Linked DNA regions of Homo sapiens: region 1 is linked to region 2. Evidence: fine-mapped expression QTL. Tissue or cell type: whole blood. Region 2 holds a variant in brackets; the other region holds the start of a gene. All regions are shown on one strand. Distances are between the middles of the regions.

Region 1 (8,101 bases), 83 kb after region 2:
AACACAAAGCATGTCCGTCAGTGCCAGCACCTCCCCCCGGCGAATCAAGCAGCTGTCCCAGAGGGCAAAGGGTCTCTGCAGCCATCTGCTTTCATCAGGGCTGCAGCCCCCAGGCAGCAGTACTGGGAGCCCCTCTCATCTCCGAGAATAAACTCTGAAGCCAGCGACCCTGCGGACCTGAATCATCAGGGAGCCTGTCAGAGGAGGGGCAGTGACTCTGCGGGACAAGCAAGCAGGCTATATAAGTTTCAGAAGGCTGGGCTCCACTCAGATCTTTTCCAGCAGCTGCTGCCTGCCAGAGAGGCGCCTTCAGAGACCCAGCGCTTACACAATACCCACCATGTCCCAGGTAGGAGGACCCAGCAAGGGCTGTGTTGATGCCAGAGGGAGTGGAGGTGGAGTCCTGGACACTTTCGGCTCTGGCAGCTGTGTCTTGATCTGAGCCCCAAGCATGAACTGGAGGCTCTGCAGCCCTTGGGAGATGGGGGCTCAGGGAGGACCCCCTGAAGAACCCCTCTTCTATGTGGCTTTGGTGGTATTCCACGGTTTGTTAGGAGGAGTGGAGAGAAATGTTGGGGGTGGGGGGGGCCTAGATAGATCTTTGCATGTGCCTGTGTGTGTGTGTGTGTGTGTGCGCATCTGTGTGTGTGCTGCCGATATAGCTCAGTGTGTAGAGCTTTGTGCATTTGTAGCTATGGGCCCGGCAGCCATGCACTCTGTGTGTGGCCACACACATAGGTCTGTCTGTCTCTGTGTATGGTATATGCATGAAGCTGTATGTGTGTGCACATGAGGCTGGAGGGACACAGCTGGATGCATCGCTGTACAGGGGTATAGTGTGTTGCTCTGAGGAGCCTGGCCCAGGCTGAGCGAGGAAATACCTGCACCTGCACCCAAGCACAGGCAGGTCTCAGACTCACAGGCGCCTGGGGTTGAGGGGTAGGGTAAACACCGAGCCTGGGTGTCCCCCACCCTGGAGGGACAGACCAGCCTGCCAAGAGAGAGGACTGTCCTTGCTGCCTGCTCTGTGGGTGGGTGGCCATTTTGGACTGTAATTCTGTGGGCATCTGGCCCTTCTACCCCATTTCCAGCCCCAAAGACACAAAGTAAATAGTGGCGCTTTTCTGGAAGGGGGCAATCCTTGAGGAACCGCTTGCCACCCAGTGAACAGGTTTTGGAACTAACCAAATTCCCTAGTATTGCCCAACCTCAGAGCTAGTCCCCTTCGCTGTTCCCCACTGTGCCCAGTCCTGAGCTTGACCAGGTAGCCAGACACGCCAGTGTGAGGCTGCAGCAGCCACTGCTCCCAAGAGCTCCCAGGCTATAGGGGAAAGGCACATGGGCAAGTCAGACCAAGACAGCTGGGAGACCTGCAGCAGGTGGAGTATAGTTGGGAAGGCTTTCTCTGGAAGAGGAGTAGAGCCTTGAATAGGCTTGGGTTTAATGAGCAGAGAAGAGGGGTCTTGGCCAAGGCACAGAGGTAGGTGTGCCTTTCTACCGAGGCTTCAGGTAGTAAGATGAGGCTCTTGGATCTCCAAGGCTGGTGCTCAGGAAGCCCCTATCAAGAAGAAGCGCCCCCCTGTGAAGGACGAGGACCTGAAGGGGGCCCGAGGAAACCTGACCAAGAACCAGGAAATCAAGTCCAAGACCTACCAGGTCATGCGAGAGTGTGGTGAGTGTCCTCATGCCATCTGGGGCTGGGGATGGGGGTGCAGGTGTGTGTCAGTGGTGGGGGGAGGTGGTCAAGGATCCTTTTCTGAGAATCCAGTATTCCTGGGTTCAAGAAAGGTGCTCCCATCGTAAGGGATCTTCCCTCCCAGGAAGCTAGGCTGGCCCCTGACTTTACCTCCTCCCACAGAGCAAGCTGGCTCGGCCGCCCCGTCGGTGTTCAGCCGCACCCGCACAGGTACCGAGACTGTCTTTGAGAAGCCCAAAGCCGGACCCACCAAGAGTGTCTTCGGCTGAGAAGTGTGCGCCACTCCCCTTGCTGCCCGAATGCTCGGAAACAGGAGCCTTTCCCAGGAACTCTTTTTTATGCCAGAACGCTTCCTCTCCCCTGCTGTCTCTGGGGCTGCCACCCTCCCCCACAGTCCAGGCCCTTCAGCCAAGGGCTCTGCACCAGCACCTTGGAAGCACCAATAAAGAGGATGCCCACGTGGCCCCAGCAATCAGAAGGTGTTGGTTGGTCCCTGGCTATGGCCACTATTGAGAGGGAGGACAGGGTGGGAACATGGAACATGTCCGTTTAAGAGGATCCCAGGGGATAGCACAGGTGCTATTATGGGCACTGCCACATGCTGCCTTGGACATGGAGACTCAGTGCTGACCTGTGACTTCAGACTTTTCTGAGCCTCAGTTTCCCCTTTTATACTACAGGGGAGTTGAGCTGGAGTCTATTCCATAAAGCAGGCCATGATGACACTGCTCAGAGTGAAGTGGGTGGGGTCTCAGGGACCACCTCTCCTCCTGCCTTCCACAGAAGCTGCTGAGAAGCCTCTGAGGACCTGCAGGCTCTGCAGCACCTAGGGACCTCAAAAACCCCTCTCCCTGCACTGCACTAGGGACCTCAAAACCCCTCTCCCTGCACTGCACTAGGGACCTCAAAACCCCTCTCCCTGCACTGCACTAGGGACCTCAAAACCCCTCTCCCTCCCTACACTTTTGTTCACACTGCCTCCTCCCGGCTTTTGTCCCCTCCAAGTCAGAGCCAGATTGAGATTCCTCTCTGGCAGTCAGTTTCCTGAGCTACCGTCTCTTCCAAACAGCAGGGGTAAGACTCCCACATTCTGCTCCAACCATGCTGTCTGGGGCATGGAACACCAGATTCTCAGCCTGCATGACCCTTCTCTCTCCAGTCCTCTGTCCCCTGTGTGCCTGGAAGTGCCAGGTTCAAAAGACCCATAGAGGCCTGTCCCGTTGTGATGGCAAGACCATGACCATGGACAGGCTGACAGTGGCTCTTTTCGGAGCTGGACTGGCAGAGCCTGGGCTTGTGGTGCCTGGCTCGGGGCTGATGCCTGCTGGGGATGCCTTCCTGTCCCAGGAGGTTCTGGCTGCCCAGAACGTTTCCCACAGTCCCGGCCAGCCTGGCCACCTTATATAGCCCTGAGTCCGGGCTGGGCCTGTGCTCTCTGCCCCAAGGGAGCAGCCCTGCTGTGAGGAAGGGCCCAGTCCTACTTGCTGGACTCCATGGGGAGACTCTTCCCCCAGACACTGAAAGGAGCGTGTTCCCCTGTGTAATCCCAATCGTATCCAGAGCCAAAAGGGTGAGCAGTGGAGACGTGCGCAGAGATGAGGCTTCTGGCCAGTCATGCTAAGGAAGGGGAACGTCTTCCTTGCAGCTGTAGAAATAGCTCCAGTCTATGGCACCTTTGCCCCAGGCCTGCCGCCACCTCTAATGGAGACAGGACTGGTGGAGAAACCCTCCCCAGCCTCTGGAAGCCACTGGCTGCCCCAAGGCCCCCGATAGGTTCCCAAGGCAGCTGGCCCCCTCAGGGCTGGTGTCACGGAGCCGCCGTCCTTCCCTGATCCAGGACTTGGCATCTGGCCACACTTTTATGACTCATCTTTACCCATCTGTGGCCACAGACTCAGGAGCTGGCTTCCCCAGAGCCACCAGGGAACACGAGCCCCAGCGGTGCCCAGAGCGCATAATATGTACTCACTCGATCCCACTTTACAAGGAGCAGAGCGCTTCAACTTTAGCAAGGCCGGGACCCACCCCAGGCCTTTGGGCAGCGCTCCCCTGGGTCTGGGCTGTGGCAGCATCACACTGCTCATGACAACAGCATTCTGCCCTCTCTCAACCAGCGATTCCTGGGCTCCCTCTGCTCCACCAAATGACTCCCCAGTCACCCCTCAGGAGCTGCTGGCACTGTCAGGTCTGTCTTCTGTTCCATGCTCTTCTGTCAATAAACTCCCCGCATGGAGACCTCTGTGCCACAGGATGTGGCAGGTTTATGACTCAGTTGTATTGCCATTCTTGTTTTGGGGGCCTTGCTGGGGTTGAACCTAAAGCCCTGGCTAGATTAATGGCACCCAAACAGCAACCTGGGACCCCAGGAGAGAGAAGGAGGCGCCCCGTGCCCAGCACCTCTCACTTCAGAAATACGGCGTATCTATCCTGACTCTAGATCTGCCCCACACAGACACCTCCCAGAGTCACTCCATGCCTTTGGGCCCTCCCATCAGCCAGACACACTTACCTGGTGGCCAAGCCCCCTTCTTCCGGGAAGCCGCTAGGGTAGCCCTGTAGCCCTAGTCTTCCCCACCATCCCCCGCTGTTTCTCCCCGGGCTGGACTTAGGGAGAGCAGACTGACATCTTCACTGTCAATTCCCTCCCAGCCCTGTGGAGCTTGGTGGAATGCCTGGTGTGAAGGGTCCTGGTGAAGGTTTCGCACTTTTCAGAAGGGGCATGTACCCCCACTCCAAACTGAGCCTACCTTTCTTTGGTATACATTCCTGCCCCCAGCCAAGGTCCATGGGACGTTCGTCATTTGCTTATCTGAGGTCACTGTGGTTTTTGGCTTGTAGATCCCAATTTCCCAGAACCTGCCCCCATGTGGGTGGGGCAGCAAACAAGTTACTAATCCATTCCCCACTTGCTGTCGAGTTCAGAAGCCTCCTGGCAGACACTGGAGCCACGATGAAGCCCCCAAGGCCTGTCCGTACCTGCAGCAAAGTTCTCGTCCTGCTTTCACTGCTGGCCATCCACCAGACTACTACTGCCGAAAAGGTAGCCAGTGTCCATGGGTGTGGCGTGAGCTGGGGGATGAGAGAACGCCTGGGAAGTGGGGAAGAGCCTCCGCATGTGCCAGCGTGTCAGCACAAGTGCGTGTGCATCCCTGTGTGTGCAAAAAAATGGTGCAGACCTCCCGCCAGGCACTACCCCAAGGGCCTTACTGGTATTCTCCCACCTAATAGAGGGGATGATCCAATCATTTCCATTTTCCAAATGAGGAAATACAGTTTTACAAGCCTGGCTCTACCGCCTTTTAGTAAGTGACCTCAGGAGAATGATTTATGCTGACTATGTCTCAATTTCCTCATCTGTAAAACAGGGTAATACTAGAACCTATTCAGAGGGTGGCGGTTGTGAAAACCAAACCCATTGTATCTATAAAGTGCTTAGGACAGTGCTTGTTGTGAAAACCAAACCCATTGTATCTATGAAGTGCTTAGGACAGTGCTTGTCGCAGAGCAAATACCCAAGCACATAAACAAGCCACTTGGCACCTCTGTGCCAAACTGCATTCAGGCAGCCGCATGCAGCCGAGCAGAGTTGGTGCAGTGCGCATGAGCATGTCACACACAAGCAGGTAAGAGGTGCCCGTGTGCCCCTCCTCGGGGGACACAGACCTCAAGGCAAATGGCACCTGCTAGGGGAGTGCCCTGCGGAAGTGGGGATGAGTTGGGGAGGGTCCACTGCGGAGCAGAGAGGAAGATTCCCAACTCTCAGAGACCAGACTCTAGTCTACCTCCGAATTCTCCCAGCTCTGAGGGCTTCCTTCTAGGAGACTGGTGGGAGCTTCCCTGTTGCCACAGAGGCCAAAGTCTCCAGAAATCAAAGGACCTGGTCACTGCCCTTTTTCTGGGCAAAGCTAAGCCAGCATGCAAAGCTCCCTGACCCCACCAGGTCTCTCACCCCTGCCCAAAGGCTGAGTGTGATGCCCCTCCCAGACACTGGCCCTGGCTTCACCAGCTCCACCCCCTGCATGCTTGTTCTTCTCCAAGGGGTGCTCTGGGCCCCTATAGATCAAGAAGGACGTGGCCCCTGCCCTGTGGTGCTGTAGGGTGGGGAATGAAGCACACTGCTATCTCTTACCTGAGACAAATGTTCACATATGAGATGCCTCACTGGGTTCAGCCTGAGGCCTGGTCAGTGGCTCAGTCAGATTGGGAGCCAGGGTTTGGTCTAGAGCCAGAGTCAGGGCCAACTCTTGAAGAGCGTCACCCCGAGCTGAGGTGGCATTGAAACCCTGCAACCCCCTTCTTCTTTGCTGGTCCAGAATGGCATCGACATCTACAGCCTCACCGTGGACTCCAGGGTCTCATCCCGATTTGCCCACACGGTCGTCACCAGCCGAGTGGTCAATAGGGCCAATACTGTGCAGGAGGCCACCTTCCAGATGGAGCTGCCCAAGAAAGCCTTCATCACCAACTTCTCCATGTAGGTGCCTTCCCACCCTCCTCCCCTCTCCACACCCCCCAGTGCTATGACTCCATCGCTCTGTGCCAGCAAACCCTCTTCTTGAAGTAAGGCATGCCAGGGTGTACATCTTCAGGAGTACACCCTGCACCTGGGGCCACACAGGAACAGGGGCTTGCCAAAGGACTTATTCTCAAAGATGCCCCCGTCCTTCCCTCCATCCAGCCATTCATCATCCCTAAGTGCTGTCCAGGTGTTAGGCAGAGAACCACAGAATCTTTGTGACTTTGCCTTTGAGGAGCACAGACTTGAGGCCTCCTGAGGCCAGACCAGGCAAGAGGGAGTCACCAAAATGCACATTCCAGCTCAAAGTACAGAAAACCTTCTAGACCCTTGGCTTCCTCACAGTGGAGAGTGGCTTGAGGAGGATTCTCCTAGGTCTGCCCCAGCTGGGATCCTGCAGAGGACATTTTTGCTCAGGCTGCGTGAGAGATGCCTGAGGTTTCTCTGAATTCTATGAGCCAAGGATGGTCCTCACTTTGTCCTCTGCCACCCTCCCCTACCCTTCCCAACTCAGTTTCCAATGTTTACTAAATGCACCAGGATGCCGCCTGTCCCTTGCTGCCAGGAAAAGCTGTGATTTAGGACAAGGGCAAGACTCTTCCCAGAAACAGGGCGATGGTGGGGCAGAGAGGGAGTGTCTCATGTGGGGTCCCACACTGTGGCCTCTGGAAAACTGCAGTGGGGGCTAGTCTCCTCCCTCAGGCGCCAAGCATCCCCCACTCCACCGCAGCCTCTACTTTTCCTAACCCAGAGCCCGGGCCTATGCTGCCCAGCTTGCAGTGCAAGCCCCACGGGCTGTGTCAGCCTTCGACATGGGTGCCAGGGTCAGCAGTTGCCAGGTCCAGGCCCGTGGCATCTGCTGAGAGCCCAAGACTGTCACTTGCCTTCTCTAGACCCAGAACCTGTTGCTGCATGAGTTAGGGGAGCAGAGAGCAGGTTCCCTGCTCCCTGACCTGGCCAGGAGCCCCAGCTGGCCATCTGGAGAGATGAAGCACTGCCTACCCAGGGGGAGGAGTGCCACTGCCCACTCACCAGCCCCATCCCGGGCTAGAGTTAAATTATAACCAGGAAGGTCAGGCAGGAGGGACGCGTAGTCCTGACATCCTGGCTGCTCCCCCTCCTGCCCACTGCCACACACTACCACATGAAGTTGACCAGGCACATCCCTACACACCCCACAAGGAGGCTCTGAAAAAGTCGTTTTCCTCCCTGAGAAATGGCCTGGGCCATTCTTTCTCAGCCCCCAAAGGATGGCTGCTAGGAGTGTGTCCACACACCCAGGAGTCCCGTCCACCAGTTGTCCAAAACCTCCTTCCAGATATGCCAGCCTCCCTATAGGGTGCCTGCCTCTTGTGGGAGGGAGCGGGGAGACTGCTGTAGGGGGAAAGTGCTCAGAGCCTCCAGCCCTACGTCTGCTTCCTCCTCAGTCCTGGCCCCACACGGCTGCACGCAGGGCTGGGAACAAGTGTGACTCAGAGAGCTCTTGCTGGTGATGAACTAGTTCCCCTGGAACAGTCCGTGAAATGGAAGGGGCAGGTGGGAATGTGGGCCAGCTTCGGCCAGACTGGACAGGTGGAGAGAAGGCAGGATTTAGCCCGGCCCTGCCCCTCTGCAGCCTCCCCTTCGTCCCTTCTATAAAATGAATGCTTACTGTTACTGTACACACCTCCGGGAGCTAGAGGCCTGGAGCACTTTGCAGAGTGCCCTGCACAGGGTCCTGTATGCGGTAGGTGCATAATAAATGGCACTGGGCTCAGGCAAAGATGGGAGTCACTGTGTCAAGAGGCACACCGAGTCCAGAAAGGCTCTCTGGAGGAGGCAGGAGTGGAATGGGCCCCTGCCACCAGGCTCTCAACAACTCCCACCCTTCTGCCCCCAGGATCATCGAT
Region 2 (8,101 bases):
TATTTCAGAGGGTATATTTCCTCATTTTCTCAGATGGAAGCATAATTTTTTAATTCAACATTTGATCATTTGTATACTTCTCTTTGCAGTATATGCATTTTCTAAAATGGCATTATATACAAAAGGGTAAAATGCATTCTCAAGATGGTGTCTAAATTGAGTTTTCTTTGGCTTTTAGAGCCTTAAGATAGTTGAATAAAAGAAAGAAAATAAGAGTGCCCATGCTGGTATTCATTAAGGAAGAGCAAAAATTGTAAATTAGGGTATGATTTGTCACAGTGGAAAAAAATAAAGCTGGGGTAGAAGACAGCTCTAAAAGAAAAGGCACATTCAAAGGAGTGGCTTTGTGCCCATCAAGAAATTCTTCGTTTGTAACATACCTGCACACACAGCTTTTGAGAAACAGTTAATTAGTAGTGCCTTCAAACCTTAAAAGTACAAATGTTTCTGTGTGTATATGTGTGTTTTAAAACATTGGGTGTTGAATTCTCTATTAATCTGCTGGGGCTGCCATACAAAATACCACAGGCTCGGTGGCTTTAAACCAGCGGTCCCCAACGTTTTTGGCACCAGGGACCGGTTTCGTGGAAGACAGTTTTTCTACAGACTGGGGTGGGGAATGGTTTTGGGATGAAACTGTTCCACCTCAGATCATCAGGCATTAGATTATCCTAAGGGGCATGCAATCTAGATCCCTCACATGCACAGTTCACAATGGGGTTCACACTCCTGTGAGAATCTAATGCTGCTGCTGATGTGACAGGAGGCCGAGCTCAGGCCGTAATGCTCCCTTGCCTGCTGTGCGGCCCCATTCCTAACAGGCCATAGACGGGTACTGGTCCGTGGCCCTGGGGTTGGGGACCCCTGCTTTAAACCACAGAAATTTATTTTCTTACATTCTGGAGGCTGGAAAATCCAAGATCAAGGTGCTGGTAGATTGCTTCCTAGTGAGGGCATTCTCCCTGGCTAGCAGATGGCTGTCTTCTGGCTGTGTCCTTGCATGGTGGAAAAATCTTTCTCTCCCCGGCACCCCCCGACCCCTCTCTTCCTGTAAGGCTATCAATGCTATTGGATTATAGCCTACCCTTATGACCTCATTTAATCTTAATTACTTCCCCAAGGCCCTATCTTCGAATACAGTTACACTGAGCACTAGGGCTTCAACATATGAATTTGAGTAGGAGGAAACAATTCTGTATATAGCAAATTCTATAACTACCTAAACCTTTGTAACTATGTGGGTAATAAAACTAACAACAGAAGTGGAGAGAAAGGCCATAGACATTTATACCAAGTAGAGAAGTGAGGTAACAATGAAAAAAAAGACTGACCTTGGATTTTTCCTTGACTTAGTTGCCAAAACTGATCCAAAGCTTTAGTTAGGATGCATTCTAAAAGATAAATTAGCCTTTTTTCAGTGATTGCTACATACAGAATAAGCCTCTGTTTTTTTTTAAATAACATAATTTGTCTTTAATTTGAAAACTGATGGACGAAGAAAACGAACCCTATATAAAGTTTCTGTTCTTTGACTGTTGAAAAATGAGTAGTTTATTTGTGATTTAAGCATCTCACAAGAAATTTTGTAATTTTTTTGCCCAGTGAATGAAGAGAAAGTTTGAACATGTAGTATCACAATGCTATATACAGACTGTCCATTGGCTCATTATGCCCTATATATAGTTTTAAAAACAATTGTTCTTTTTTGTTGTTGTAGTTTTTTGTTGTTGTTGTTGTTGTTGTTGTTGTTTGGTTTTTTTGACACAGAGTCCTGCTTTGTTGCCTAGGCTGGAGTGCAGTGGCACGATCTCGGCTCACTGCAAGCTCTGCCTCCTGGGTTCACGCCATTCTCCTCCCTCAGCCTCCTTAGTAGCTGGGACTACAGGTGCCTGCCACCATGCCCAGCTAATTTTTTGTATTTTTAGTAGAGACGGGGTTTCACAGTGTTAGCCAGGATGGTCTCAATCTCCTGACCTTGTGACCCGCCCACGTCAGCCTCCCAAAGTGCTGGGATTACGCGTGAGCCACCGCATCCAGCCTTGTTCTTTTAAAAAAAAAAAAAAAAAAAAAAAGTATCATCAAGGGAGTACCTTCTGTTACAGATTTTGCGAACATGCCACATTTGCTTTCTTCTTAGATTTGAAGGAAACTAAGCCTCACACTTTACTGATCTTAAGAATTATCTCACTATTTTACTGTGTTTTCTTGACCCAGAGTACCATCCTCGAGGACTGTCCACGAGGGCCTGAGGAATCAGGAGCTGAACTCCACAGAGTCAGGTATAAGCACATGTCATCTTAAGGAAAAGAAGACTTAGTTTCTTTTAATGGACTATATCTGAAAATAACTTAAAACAGTACATTTGATGTATAGTATGTGTCTTCATAGAGGGGTCTCTTAATTGTGACTTTAGAGTTATAACTGTCTAAGATGTGTTTAGTTTAATAATCATCTCTAGGCTGATAGTTCCGTCCATTTCTAATAATTGTAGCTATTCTTTACTGATCAACCGTTGTGTGCCAACGGCTCAGAAGGCCAATGTTACCATCCTTGACTTTAGCTAAAGAACCTGAAGTTTTCCAGGCAGTGTTCTTTCTTAAGCTAGATGGTTGAGAGGTAGAAGTTTATTCTTTTTAAAACCCTTTTTTATGATATGCATACTTTGTATATAAATTTCACAGTTTATGTGAAAAAAATAAAGCAATGGAAAAAGAAATTGTCCCAGAGGCAATTAATGCCTGATAAATGAGAGAAAAATCCTTGCTGGAGGTTCAAGCCTTTTGTCCAGGGTCCTCTCTTGAACTATTCTTAACTTCCACGTGCTTGTTGTGTAATGTTTAGCATCCTGGCTGTGTGTATTCTAGCACAGATTGCGCATTTGGGTGATATTTAGTAAATGCCTAGAAGAGAAATCGAAGCTCAGAGAGATCACACAGCTTATGAGTAGAAAGACCAGAAATGAAACTGAAGTCTTTCACAAATTAGAAACCCGTACTTCCGTCTCTTGTACCTACTGCCTTTTCATTACATCATTTGTACATAGAGGGTTAGGACTGTGTAACTCCTTGCTTTTGATGCTTTCCTGGCCATTCGAATGCCTACTGAAACCACAGAATTTAAGACATTAATATCTTCTGCACAACCTCAGCCAAGGCCTTTTGGTTTGGGTTTTGTCATAGGTCAGGTTCCCTGGGAAACAGAGTCTGAGACTCTGACATATGCATTCAGGAGTTTCATTGGGGAGTATTTTTGGGAACAGCTCCTTAGAAGGAGTAAAGGAAGTAGGATTGGGCAGAGAGATAAGTTGAACCATGATGCAGTTGCAACAGAAGTTTCTTCTAGTTCCACTGGGAGCCCTGAAGCTGATCTAACCACTCAGAGTTGATCCTAATTCAGGTGTGGTGGCCACACTTTACTGACCAGTTATTGGAAGTAAGCCACTGCTCCCTCCCCACCTCACAAGGGGCAAGGTGGCCCTCTCCTGCTGAGAGCAGTACCCAGTTCAGGGTGATTCCAGAATAGACATAAAACTGGGAACTGTAAGCTGCCAACATACCCAGCAGCAGGGGTATGAGTGCCTTAATTCTGAAAAGAGGCATTTGGGTTGCAGGGTTCAACTGGAAATGTGAGCACCAGCATACTGGCCACTATGATAGACCATCGTTTTTTTGTTTTGTTTTGTTTTGAGACAGGGTCTCGCTGTGTCATCCAGGCTGGAGTGC[A/G]GTGCAGTGATATCAGCTCACTGCAACCTCCACCTCCTGGGCTCAAGCTGTCCTCCTACATCAGCCTCCCGAGTAGCTGGGACTACAGGCATATGCCACCACATGTGGCTGATTTTTTTGTTTTTGTTTTTGTTTTTGTTTTTTGTAGAGATGGGGCTTCACTGTGTTACCCAGGCTGGTCTCAAACTGGACTCAAGCGATGTGCTCCCCCGTTGGCCTCCCAAATTGCTGGGATTACGGGCATGAGCCACAACACCTGGCTGTGACTATTCTTAATTAAAGAGAAAACATTATGAACTGCAGGATCCTATCAACAATGGGCAGTGTGCGCATATCTTTCCTTAACATTGGATTAACAGGCATATCTATTAGAAGAGCTTCTCTGTGCTTTATAGCAGTATTTTAGTGTCTTTGAATTTTTTACATTCAACAGCTGACATGCCTACCACTATGAGGGGATTTTTTAAAAACATTAAATTGAAGGACAGTATTGATACAGACAAATAGTTGAAGAAAAGGGTCTCCAGACCCAGTTATACCCCACAGTACAAAAAAAACTTAGAGATGTGGTCACAGCATACTTTTAGCCCTCTGAGAAATCTCAGAGATGGGATTGCTCTCACAACATCAAAGGCTGCCAACATATTAGTTTGGTGGTTTTTAGGAGACAAACTAATTCTCAATAATATTCAACAATTTCTATAAATATTCCAGAATAGATGATTGAAAGTTGGTTTTTGAAGACCTGGAAAAGAAATCATTGATCATCCAGAATCCTCATGTGTTCTTAAAATACACCCTCCACTTTCTTTATTAATAGAAGATAGGGTTCTTCTATCAATTTTGCAGTAACCTAGGAACTAATCAGCATGTTAATTCAGGACCCTCTTTGATTTCAGCAGAGTGATAAGCTCTGTAAGTTACTTAAGAGCATTCTCAGACAACATGTTAAGCTTCAAAATAAGTAATTCCAAACTTTATATTAATATAATGGTACATGTGCTTCGTTTTTCTTCCCTGGCAGTTCAGCTTTGGAAACGTGGGGTAGAGAATGACTGTTTTGAATATTTGTTTTTCTTCATTTCCCAGTTATGATTAATGGAAAATATTGCTGTCCAAAGATATACTTCAACCACCGTTGCTTCTCAGGGCCATATCTTAACAAAGGAAGAATTGCTGAGCTGCCTCAATGTGTAGGACCTGGGAACTGTGTTCTGGTCCTTAGAGAGGTAAGGTTCTGGCCTAGAGCAAAATAACTTGGAAATTTCACAGCATTCTCCTATGGTCATTTCTACAGGGAGCCACATGCCATAGATGTGACAGTTCTAGGTTTTATCAAAAGTTACTAACTTTTCTCATGTTTTGGACAGTGAAGAGGGTATGTAATTATTTCTCCTCCCTAGGAAACATTCACGTAAACAACTCTTCACACAGCAGGTTCACCTCTGTCAGGGTAGAAAGGTCTTCTGTCAGAGACCAGAAGAGAACTATACAAAAGTGAACTGTGAGGTTACTCTATGACTGAAAGGCCGTGGCTATGTGGCATTAACCTAGCGACCGTGATAAAGCTACACATCTGCTGGGCTTTCTGTTCTTCCCAGCCAGTGTGATATGCTGCAAGTAACAGATAAGAGACCTTTCAGCCCTCAGGGTGGCAAGTCAGGATCTGGGGAAGCCAGAGCGTCTGGACCAGACTCCTCCAGCCACAAGAAGGCTCAGCTGTCTACACAGTGGTCCAAACAAATATAATTTTCTGTGTGTACCGTGGCTGGGAAAGCATTTGGAAGCATGTTCTGGAGCAATTTGAAAATCATGGTACCTGTTTTTTTCCTGACCGTAACATTTAAAAAATGTTGAAAAGGATCTGGTTACTCTCTTATCTGCACCTTTGGGTGGCTGTAATATCTCTGATACTATTATTTTGTTAACATTTGTTAATTCATATGACTAGAATTTAACCTCCTAAATAATCTTAACATTTTAAGGAAGAGATGACAAGATTCTAATGGTCTGCTTTTCTCCTTCCCAATCTGTGTTTCTGCTTTAAAACTGAGCTCAGGTCCTCACTTTACTTATCAATGCAGCCTACAAACCCAGCCGTGTCCTTCGGGAGCTCCAGCTGGACAAAGACTCTGTGTGGCACGGATGTGGGGAAGTCCTAAAAGCCAAGTGAGTGGACTACTTGTTTTTACTCTTTACTTTTACTTGTCTTTAAAAAGTCACAGAATCGGCGTGGCACAGTGGCTCACACCTGTAATCCCAGCACTTTGGGAGGCCGAGGCGGGCGGATCACAAGGTCAGGAGTTCAAGACCAGCCTGGTCAACATGATGAAACCCTGTCTCTACTAAAAATACAAAAATTAGCCAGACACGGTGCACACGCCTGTAATCCCAGCTACTTGGGAGGCTGAGGCAGGAGGATTGCTTGAACCCAGGAGGTGGAGGTTGCAGTGAGCTGAGATCGTGCCACTACATTGTAGCCTGGGTGACAGAGGGAGATTCTGTCTCAAACAAAAAACAACAAAAAAAATTCACAGAATCAGTTCTGTGGATAATATCAGAAGCCTTATGTTTCCTTAGGCAGGGCTTTTTCAGCTATTTGTGGTGAAGGCCCAGGCTTGTTTTTCTTTTTTAGATTTCCATTCTTTCATGGATCAATACATTTATAAAATATGATAGAATGAATTATAAGAAATACGAAATTTAAGACCGGGCACCGTGGCTCACGCCCCTAATCCTAGCACTCTGGGAGGCTGAGGTGGGCGGATCACCTGAGGTCAGGAGTTCAAGACCAGCCTGGCCAACATAGTGAAACCCTGTCTCTACTCAAAATACAAAAATTAGCCAGGTGTCGTGGTGTGTGCCTGTAATCCCAGCTACTTGGGAGGCTGAGGCAGGAGAATCTCTTGACCTGGGAGGCGGAGGTTGCAGTGAGCTGAGATCATGCCACTGCACTTCATCCAGCCTGGGTGACAGAGCGAGACTCTATCTCAAAAACAAAAAGGAAATAAGAAATTTAAGACATAAAAATGCAAGAACAATTTTTGTTATTAGATGTAAGAGACATAAAATTACTTTTTCAAATTACTGTGAAAGGTTATAAACAGGTACTCTTGCTTTCTGATCTTGTCATGGATGGATGGCAGGCAATTGGCAGGTCATACTGGTCCTTGGATAACAGTCTGAGGATCACTGCCAAGGGTAAAGAAAGACTTAGTGAAAAGTCACTTTTCTTTTTAGAGCAGTTAGTGAAATTACTATTTGAAAACCTTAACTTAGGAACAGAAAGCAGGAGCTTAATTTTGCTAATTTAAATAACTCAGCTTTTAGTTGTCATAGCTTACCAGATTTAATTTGATTTAAGTTCAATATGCAGAACTTCCTTGTTGTTTTCAGGGCCCTTGAACTATAAAGGACATAGAATATTCCAAGAAGCAAAAATATTTTTTAGGTGTATTAATATGTTTGATTTTTCTCTGGGTAATCATTAGCCCAATATATTTGGCATCTGATGTCTTCCAATGGCAGATATAAAGGAAAGAGTTATCGGGCTACTGTTGAGATAGTGAAAACAGCAGATCGGGTGACTGAATTCTGCCGGCAAACCTGTATCAAACTGGAATGCTGTCCTAACCTCTTCGGTCCACGGATGGTTCTGGATAAGTGTTCTGAGAACTGTTCTGTACTTACAAAGACCAAATACAGTGAGTCATGTTTTTCCAATGTGTTAACCATAGCAGCTGACCATACCTTACATCTTGGAAAGTTTTTTACTTTACAGACATTCATATATAGCAGAGGCACACGAACTTCTTCTGTAAAGGGCCAGATGATAAATATTTCATGTTGTGGGTCATATGCTTTCTGTCACATATTCTTTTTCTATGTGTTGTGTTTTCATTTTTTAAGAACCCTTTTGGCCGGGTGTGGTGGCTCATGCCTGTAATCCCAGCACTTTGGGAGGCCGAGGCAGGCGGATCACTTGAGGTCAGGAGTTCGAGACCAGTCTGGCCAACATGGTGAAACCCCGTCTCTACTAAAAATAGAAAAACTAGCTGGGTGTGGTGGCACCTGCCCGTAATCCCAGCTGCTTGGGAGGCTGAGGCAGGAGAATCACTTGAAAGCGGGAGATGAAGGTTGCAGTGAGCTGAGATTGCGCCACTGCACTCCAGCCTGGGTGACAAAACGAGACTCTGTGTCTCCAAAAAAAAAGAACCCTTTAAAAAATGTAAGGGTAATTTTTGGCTTGGGGGCTATACCAAAACAGGTCATGGGCCAGACTTGACTCATGGGCTTTAGTGTGCCAACTTTTATATATAGCATGTATATAAATTAGTTATTGTATCTAATAGGATATGTAATTCATTCATACAATCTGC

Evidence for each region. PIP is the estimated chance that this variant, and not a neighbour inherited with it, causes the effect.
Region 1: it holds the start of ITIH4, and the variant in region 2 is fine-mapped to the expression of ITIH4 in whole blood (TOPMed, PIP 0.98).

The regions. Positions count from the first base shown.
Region 1 is chr3:52,827,188-52,835,288 of GRCh38, reverse strand. It overlaps ITIH4 (inter-alpha-trypsin inhibitor heavy chain 4), which reads left to right and starts at 4,617. Exons shown (of 24, transcript NM_002218.5): 1 at 4,617-4,736; 2 at 6,010-6,170; 3 at 8,092-8,101. The coding sequence starts at 4,647. STIMATE-MUSTN1 (STIMATE-MUSTN1 readthrough) reads left to right here. Exons shown (of 10, transcript NM_001198974.3): 9 at 1,540-1,672; 10 at 1,859-2,168. The coding sequence ends at 1,965. It overlaps MUSTN1 (musculoskeletal, embryonic nuclear protein 1), which reads left to right and starts at 270. Exons shown (of 3, transcript NM_205853.4): 1 at 270-349; 2 at 1,540-1,672; 3 at 1,859-2,168. The coding sequence starts at 341. The coding sequence ends at 1,965. RefSeq lists enhancers at 6,657-7,264, 7,265-7,873.
Region 2 is chr3:52,910,328-52,918,428 of GRCh38, reverse strand. It overlaps SFMBT1 (Scm like with four mbt domains 1), which reads left to right. Exons shown (of 21, transcript NM_016329.4): 14 at 2,215-2,279; 15 at 4,812-4,951; 16 at 5,782-5,891; 17 at 7,251-7,426. Among named protein-coding and RNA genes, the nearest start is that of STIMATE-MUSTN1, 17 kb to the right of the region's middle. The variant A/G (reference allele first, on the strand shown) is at 3,723.